2 linked regions of the Homo sapiens genome follow. The protein of the gene in region 1 purifies or fractionates together with the protein of each later gene. This does not show direct contact. Each region holds a gene or a part of one and is shown on either strand. Other genes may lie near its edges.

Evidence for each region. The genes of interacting proteins can lie anywhere in the genome.
Region 2: the proteins of MAP4K2 (region 1) and RCC2 purify together in Homo sapiens (affinity purification with mass spectrometry, with the first as the bait; one study listed by BioGRID). This does not show direct contact.

The regions. Positions count from the first base shown.
Region 1 is NC_000011.10:64,789,674-64,793,319, forward strand, and holds part of MAP4K2 (mitogen-activated protein kinase kinase kinase kinase 2), read right to left. Parts: intron 2,750-3,646; coding exon 2,691-2,749; intron 2,603-2,690; coding exon 2,499-2,602; intron 2,414-2,498; coding exon 2,236-2,413; intron 790-2,235; coding exon 721-789; intron 602-720; coding exon 515-601; intron 287-514; coding exon 216-286; intron 113-215; coding exon 57-112; intron 1-56. UniProt on the Homo sapiens protein: Serine/threonine-protein kinase which acts as an essential component of the MAP kinase signal transduction pathway.
Region 2 is NC_000001.11:17,426,086-17,429,731, reverse strand, and holds part of RCC2 (protein RCC2), read left to right. Parts: intron 1-532; coding exon 533-626; intron 627-3,646. UniProt on the Homo sapiens protein: Multifunctional protein that may affect its functions by regulating the activity of small GTPases, such as RAC1 and RALA. Required for normal progress through the cell cycle, both during interphase and during mitosis.

The sequences.
Region 1 (3,646 bases):
GCCCCTTCTCTGGCCTCAGGGGCATCTGAAGGGGAGGCTAGGGTACCACCGCCTACCTGTGGGCCCCAAGCACTCGGAAGATCCTTGTTTCATCTGTGATCTCCTGGGTCACCTGGGAAGACAGGTGGGAAGCACTGAGGCCACTCCAGTAGGTCCTTTCCAAAGAGGTAGGGACCACAAGGCAGGGGACAGCAAGGTCCCTGGGCCCCACTCACCTCATTGGTATCCAGGCTTCGGCCTTGCATCCCATGGCTCCAGAAGGCCAGCACACTGTCCTGCAGGCACACTATGGGGGCCAGGCCACCATCAGCCCTGCACCCATCTTGGCACCCCCTCAGCCACGCCTGAGCCTGGGTCTGGGCCACAGGGGTCCTCACTGACCTCAGGTGACCAGGATGGCTCAGGAGAGGGGCTAGGGGATCTGCCTCCTCATCCTACCGCCAGCCCCAGGCCCCTGAGCAACAACGTGCTCCAGGCCAGGGAAAGGCCTGCACCCCACCTCTGGCTCACTCACCCACAGTCTCGATGGGGAAATCAAAGGTCAGCTCAGGTGCCAGTGTGGCCGTGGGCTCGCCCTGCATGTTGACAATCCTCACACAGCCTGCACAGGGAAGGAATTGGTGAGTGGGGACGGGGAGGCTCCCTTCTGGGAAGGCAGACCCACGTGGTCGCCTTACCTCCATAGTCCCCTGCCCTAAGCCCTGCCCCCAGGGCACTCACGTTCAAAGCTGACTAGGATTGTGTCCCTGTCCACCTGGATCACCTGCTGGGCCGAGCCTGGGATCCCCTCTGCAGGCAGAGAAGAGAGACATGGCCTGGCTGAGCCACCAGTCCCCCAACCCCAAGAGGATACGGGGGCCAGGCTACAGACAGCCCTTGGCCATGAGGGCACGTCAGCCTCACAACAGCCCTGTGGGGCTGGGAAACCTCATCTCCCTCCAGGGCTGGGAACTGAGGCTCTGAGAGGATGAGTGACCCGTCCTAGGGCTCATGGGGAGTGGAGGAGGAGTCACGGGGAGCCACGGGAGGGCTCCAGGTTTAAGGGGACCAGGCCTCGTGACCCAGTCACTGTGTGACCTGGTACAAATCACTTTACCTCTCGGAGCCTCTGTTTCCTCATAACACAGACAAGATGGCACTGCCTTGAGAGGCTATCATGAGGATCAGGAATAAAATCCTGGGCTGGGCGCAGTGGCTCACACCTGTAATCCCAGCACTGTGGGAGGCCGAAGCGGGTGGATCACCTGAGATCAGGTGTTGGAGACCAGCCTGGCCAACATGGCGAAACCCCATTTCTACTAATAATACAAAACGTAGCCGGACGTGGTGGCACATGCTTGTAATCCCAGCTACTCGGGAGGCTGAGGCAAGAGAATAGCTTGAACCCACGAGGCAGAGGTTGCAGTGAGCCGAGATCGTGCCATTGCACTCCAGCCTGGGCAACAGAGCAAGACTCTGTCTCAAAAAATAAAAAAATAAATAAAGAATAAAATCCTGTGTGTGAGACCCCTGGCTCAGGGCCTGGCACCAGGTGCCTTAACTACGTGCGCCCTCCTTTCTCCCTTACCCATCACTGCTCATTATCACCCCAAGCTGCCACAACACCTGGAGTCCTGCTTCCTGGCTGAGAATGGGGCCTCTAGGCCCTGCCTTGCCAGATCTGCCTCTTCCCTGCAGCCCGGAGCAATGTTGACCAGTTTTTGTTTTTGTTTTTGTTTTTTGTTTTGAGATAGGGTCTCACTCTGTCACCCAGGCTGGAGTGCAGTGGCGCGAACATGGCTCACAACTGCCTCTGTCTCCCAGGCTCAAGTGATCCTCCCACCTCAGCCCAAGTAGCTGGGACTACACACGTGCATCAACATGCCCAGCTAATTTTTTGTAGAGTCAGGGTCTCGCCATGTTGTCCAGGCTGGTCTCAAACTCATGAGCTCAAGCCCCTCTCTCTCCTTGGCCTCCCAAAATGCTGGGATTACAGGCGTGAGCCACTGTGCCCGGCCTGGCCAGGATTTTCTTAGCTGCCAAGCCCTTCCGTCTAATGAACCCTTTTATGGAAGCCCAGGTGAAGCTTGTTGAAGGGAGGCTGTGGGCCCCAGACCCCACATGGCAGCCCTCAAGGTCTCTGTGGAGCCACTGGCTGTGGGGAGCCTAGTTTGGGAGCCTTGGCCCTCCCTGCCTCCCTCCCTCGGTCTCTCATGCACACACACCCACCCCCAGCAGCCTGGCCCTTCTGCTCACCAGGTGGGATGAGGATGTCGGGCGTCAGGCCAGCCTCCAGGGGCAGGACATGGAACAGGACGCGGCAGCCGGGCCCCTCAGGCCCCTCGGCCCCAACACACACCTGCGGCAGCTCCTTCCCATCCAGCACCAGCGGCTCCAGCATCCCAGCTGGGCTGGGCAGAGGGCTGGAGAAGTTCTAGGGGGCAGCAGGGATGCTCAGGTCTCCATTTCTCCCCCCAGAGCTCTGAGGGTGCCCTGGGCCTCCCCCCACCGCCCCTCACCTTCAGCAGCAGAAACTTCTGCAGCGGCTCATACCACTGCAGCAGGAGCAGGCTGGTGGGCAGGGCGGCCAGCAGGAAGGTGGCACCCGTGTAGGGGTTCCGCACTGGCAGGGGAGCAGGCAGTGGGCACCGGGCTGGGCCTGCGCTGCCCCCCACCAGGCCCCGCCCCACCCCGCCCAGCCCATTTCTTACCCACACGACACTGCAAGCAGCCTTTGGTGTCAGGAATCTTGGTGGACAGAGCAAAGCGCCTGTAGGGGTGATAACCAGGGCCTGTGTCTGGGATGCCATCCATGGGCAAGGCCCCTGCAGAGCCCTATGAGGTGGGCACTATCAGCTTCCCTCTTTACAAGTAAGGGACTGAGACTCAGAGACACAGAGTAACTTGCCCCAAGAACAGCTGGGAAAGGTGGAGGATCTGAAGCCAGTCTCCCAGCCCTGAAGCCAGGAGGGAGTGTCTCCATCCAGGCCAGGGGTTTGGGTCTCAGGATTGCTTCTAGCTCTGTGTGACTCCAGGCAAGCCACTTAATCTCTCCATGCCTCAGTTTCGTCATCTGTAGATTGGGGATAATGGCGGGCCCCACCCCAGAGAGTCACAGTGAAGGCTTCATGAGTTAATACAGGGGAGGTGCTCTCGGCAGTGCTGGGAATCGTGTGTGCTCACAGAGGGCCAGCTCCTATCATCCCATATTAGGACTTTCCACCTATTTTGAGTCACTGAAAGTCCTTGTCAGGTAAAGGCAGGGTATAAAGAAAGAAATGATGCCAGGTGCAACGGCTCACGCCTGTAATCCCAGCACTCTGGGAGGTCGAGGTAGGCAGATCACCCGAGGTCGGGAGTTCGAGACCAGCCTGACCAACATAGAGAAACCCTGTCTCTACTAAAAATACAAAATTAGCCAGGCGTGGTGGCGCGTGCCTGTAATCCCAGCTACTTGGGAGGCTGAGGCAGGAGAATTGCTTGAACCCAGGAGGCGGAGGTTGCAGTGAGCCGAGATTGTGCCATCGGACTCCAGCCCGGGCAATGAGAGTGAAACTCGGTCTCAAAAAAAAAGAAAAAGAAAAAAGGAATGAAGAAATGAGAGCATGGAGGGGCTGGGGAGGATGCAGGCTCCAGCCCCACCAGGTTGCACAGACTGCACACGGCC
Region 2 (3,646 bases), on another chromosome or scaffold:
CTCCCTTCAGTGGAGAAATCGAACCTTGTTCTCTACTGTTTTCTTCCTGAGTCCCCATGGAAAGGCTCTCGGCAGAGTGGGCAGCAGAAGTGATGTGAGGCTCCTAAGGTTTGAGGTCGCAGGCCGTGCTTGCCATGTGAAATAGAGACTTGGCCCTAGGATGAGCTGGATTTAACGCCCCTGAGTGTCCGGCAGGCTTCCTGCAAATACCTCTGTACATCAGTTTGCGAAGGAGGCATGTATTTGGGTTTTTTTTTTAGTGTTTTGCAAAAGCTATTTTAAAGGGAAGTCAAAGGATAAAAATGAGCCTGGGCTTAGCAAGTGAGCGGCTGTGGGCAGGTTTGGGGTTGCCCGCATTGCCACTTGCCGATGAGGGAGGGGAGTGTGGGGAGACTCTGTTCGTGTGGAGGTCACAGGTGACATAAGGGCTAACTGAATGATTTTCTTTCGTTTCGTGCTGTCATTGGACAGCCTTGGAAAGCTAGGTGCAGACTTACACACTAATTCTTTTTTCCTTTCTCTGTCTCTGCAGAAACTTGAAGGGTCAAAGTGCAAAGGGCAGCTTTTGATTTTTGGGGCAACCAACTGGGACTTGATTGGTCGAAAAGAAGTGCCTAAACAGCAAGGTATGAGAATGGTGCCTCAAAAACCCATTGAGTGCTTCTTAAGTGCTAGGTTCTGTTGACCACCTGCCTGGTAGGTATTCCCTTCATTTACAAATGCATTTTCACAGAGGCCAAGTGACTTGCCTGAGGCCACACAGCCACTGTAGTGATGAGCTGGATTTGAACCCTAATCTTAGTCTTTTAAAGGCACAATTTTGAAGTGACTCACTAATTCCGTTAAGATTAATCAGGAAAATACAAGTAGTATCCTCAAATGAACATTGCCACCTTTTCCATCTTCCCTCTCACCTCACTTGTTTTCATTAAAATGAAGAGACCAGGTCTGTGAGATGGTGTCAGAATGTCCTAGACATTTGTCAAATGTCAGGTGTCAAAATTTCAGGCATTGCAGAAGAGTCCACGTTTCTTTGCAAGCTGCCAAATTGTTGCAGGAACTGGTTTGACAGAACAGTCTGGAGCGGGGGAAAGCAGAGAGGTCCTTAAGAAGTAATGTTTTGTCCCCAGTTACCTTTGGAAAACTGGTGTCTTAAGGGAAAAGGCCCATCCAGGAGAAGGAAGGCTGGCATGTAGCCAACTTTTATGGCTTCTTGATTTCATCTGGAAAGACTCCCAAAGTGCTTTCCAGCATTGCTTTGCCCCATGAACAAATATTTGCACGCTGGCTCGTCTTGGCACCTTAAAACAGGGGCGTTGGAAATCACCTTGTTCCATGAAAACACCTGGGGGCCAGCTGAATTAGAAATGGGTTTAAGTTGCAGGTAGCAGCAGCGCGTTGTTTGGAAAATGCCCAGCCTTCAGGCCCAAGCCAGAGGGGGCCACGTCCACATGGTGGCTTTTGTCCCAGGGAAGCACCTCCTGGTCTACAGTAACGTAAGCCCAGGTGCTGATGGCGCCTTGTTGCCAGTCCTGTGCCCGTGTTGCATCATTTCTCAAAGCCGTTCTTCAACTGAGCAGCCCAGTTGACATTGAAGATACAGAAGCCCAGGGAAGGGCAGTAAATACCAAAGGAAGCGAGTGGCAGGGCCAGGGTTGGAGTCCCACTCTCTAGTTAACTCTGTTGCCTCCCGCGCATGTATGTTGCTGTAGATCTGGTGAAAACCAGCAGCCTGGATGTCTTGGTTTTTGCAAGATAGCACCACAGCAAGCCACACAGTAGCTCTGTGATTGGGACCAGACCCCAGGGATCCGGAGGCCGTGGGAATTGACTTCTCAGTCTGACCGCAGAGCCTGGGACTGCTGCAGGGCGTTTAATTTGACTTGCTCCCCCTCCCCCACCCCTGCCCGGTCCCTCCAGTCCCTCCAGCCCTTCCTTGGGAGGCCGGAAGAAACCCAACCCGGCTCCTCAGGAGCCAGTGGCATCCTGGGCACTGCAGGGAAAGATGCTTTGGTAAGTCCAGGAGCATCTGACCACCTGAGACTCCCCTTGGCCAAGCAAGTTCAAGTGTGGCACCGCACCCTTGCCTGGCGTCCCGTGGCCTCCTGTGTTGCGGCACAGGGTCGTGATGATACTCGTCAATCATGCCATCATTTTGTCTTCATGGCAAAGAGACCTTGGGTTTCTCTTTATCCCTTCCGAGTTTTGTTTAATACAGTTCCTGAATCTTAATTTAGGTGCCACCTCCTTGAGTTTTTCTTAAGTTTTAATATAGACCATGAGGCTTTTATTTTTGGTTTGCTCTTTCCCCAGGAAATTGTTGATGTTCCTCTTCCTCCTTTCAGGGGAGGTGTCTGCAGGTGTGCTGCTTCAGGTGCCATGCGGGATCGGCTGGCCCCTGCCCGCCTGCGGCCAGGAGTCTTGCCCACTTGCCCCCACACCTGAATGAGGGAGCATGTGGTGCCCTCTGCTGAGGGCGGAGGGTGGGGCTGGAACGTACTTCACAGATACTTTCTAGGCAGCCAGGCGCTTGATAGAGACATTGTAGCCTTTTTATCAGTTCCTACATTGGATCAGTCTTACACACTCGATTTGGCAGTGGCTAGCATTTCAGGATAATCACCACAATCCTGGAAATACTCTTGAGCATCTCAATTTCAAAAATTAAGATTGCTGGGCATGGTGGCTCACGCCTGTAATCCCAGCAGTTTGGAAGGCTGAGTCGAGTGGATCACTTGAGCTCAGGAGTTAAAGACCAGCCTGGCCAATATGGTGAAACCCTCTCTACTAAATATACAAAAATTAGCTGGGTGTGATGGCACACGCCTGTAATCCCAGTTACTCGTGAGGCTGAGGCAGGAGAATCAATTGAACCTGGGAGGCAGAGGTTGCAGTGAACCGAGATTGTGCCACTGCTCTCCAGCCTGGGCAACAGTGAAACTGTCTCAAAAAAAAAAAAAAAAAAAAAAAAAGAAAAGTAAGAAATTGGCCCTGCCCCATCCTCTAATAGGGTGTGAAGGGGGGTTTGTGAGGAAGATGCTGTGGTTTTCTTTCCCATTGAGTGCTCGCTGCGTGCCAGGCATTTGTGAGGGTCTAGGCTGGAGGGAGCCTACAGCTTTAGCCCTGGGTGGCTTCTCATGGAGTGGGAGGGCTGGGGGGCTCAGGAAGAGAGCTGTGGTGGGCTGAGCAGGGCTGAGCAGAGCTGGGGCAGGGGAGCCCTGGGGGAAGGAGATTTCTCAGTGGATGTTGCCCTGGAGGGCTTCCCCAAGGAGGCGAACTGGTGCTTGACTTGAGCTTTCAGGAAGAAGTAGGAGGTGGGAAGGACATTCTAGGGGAAGCGAATATATGGGTGGGTGTCAGGGGAGTCATGAAGTGGCTGTCACACTGGACGGGTGAGAAGGGAGCAGGAGGTGGGGTGATACTGTGTGAGCAGTGCCCCTCCTCAAGGGGCCTGATGGAGCTGCTGGGAACATGAAGACAGGACACTCGGGTCACCCCTCAGAAAGAGCCTTCTGGCCCAGGGTGAAGGCCGGAGATGGAGGGCAGGAGAGCCTGGGAAAGGAGGGGCAGGCGGCAGGGAGTGAGGAGGAGGGGTAGGTTACTGTCAGGGTGAGCGGGGTTTCCTGGGTCAGCCTCTTCCTCAGCT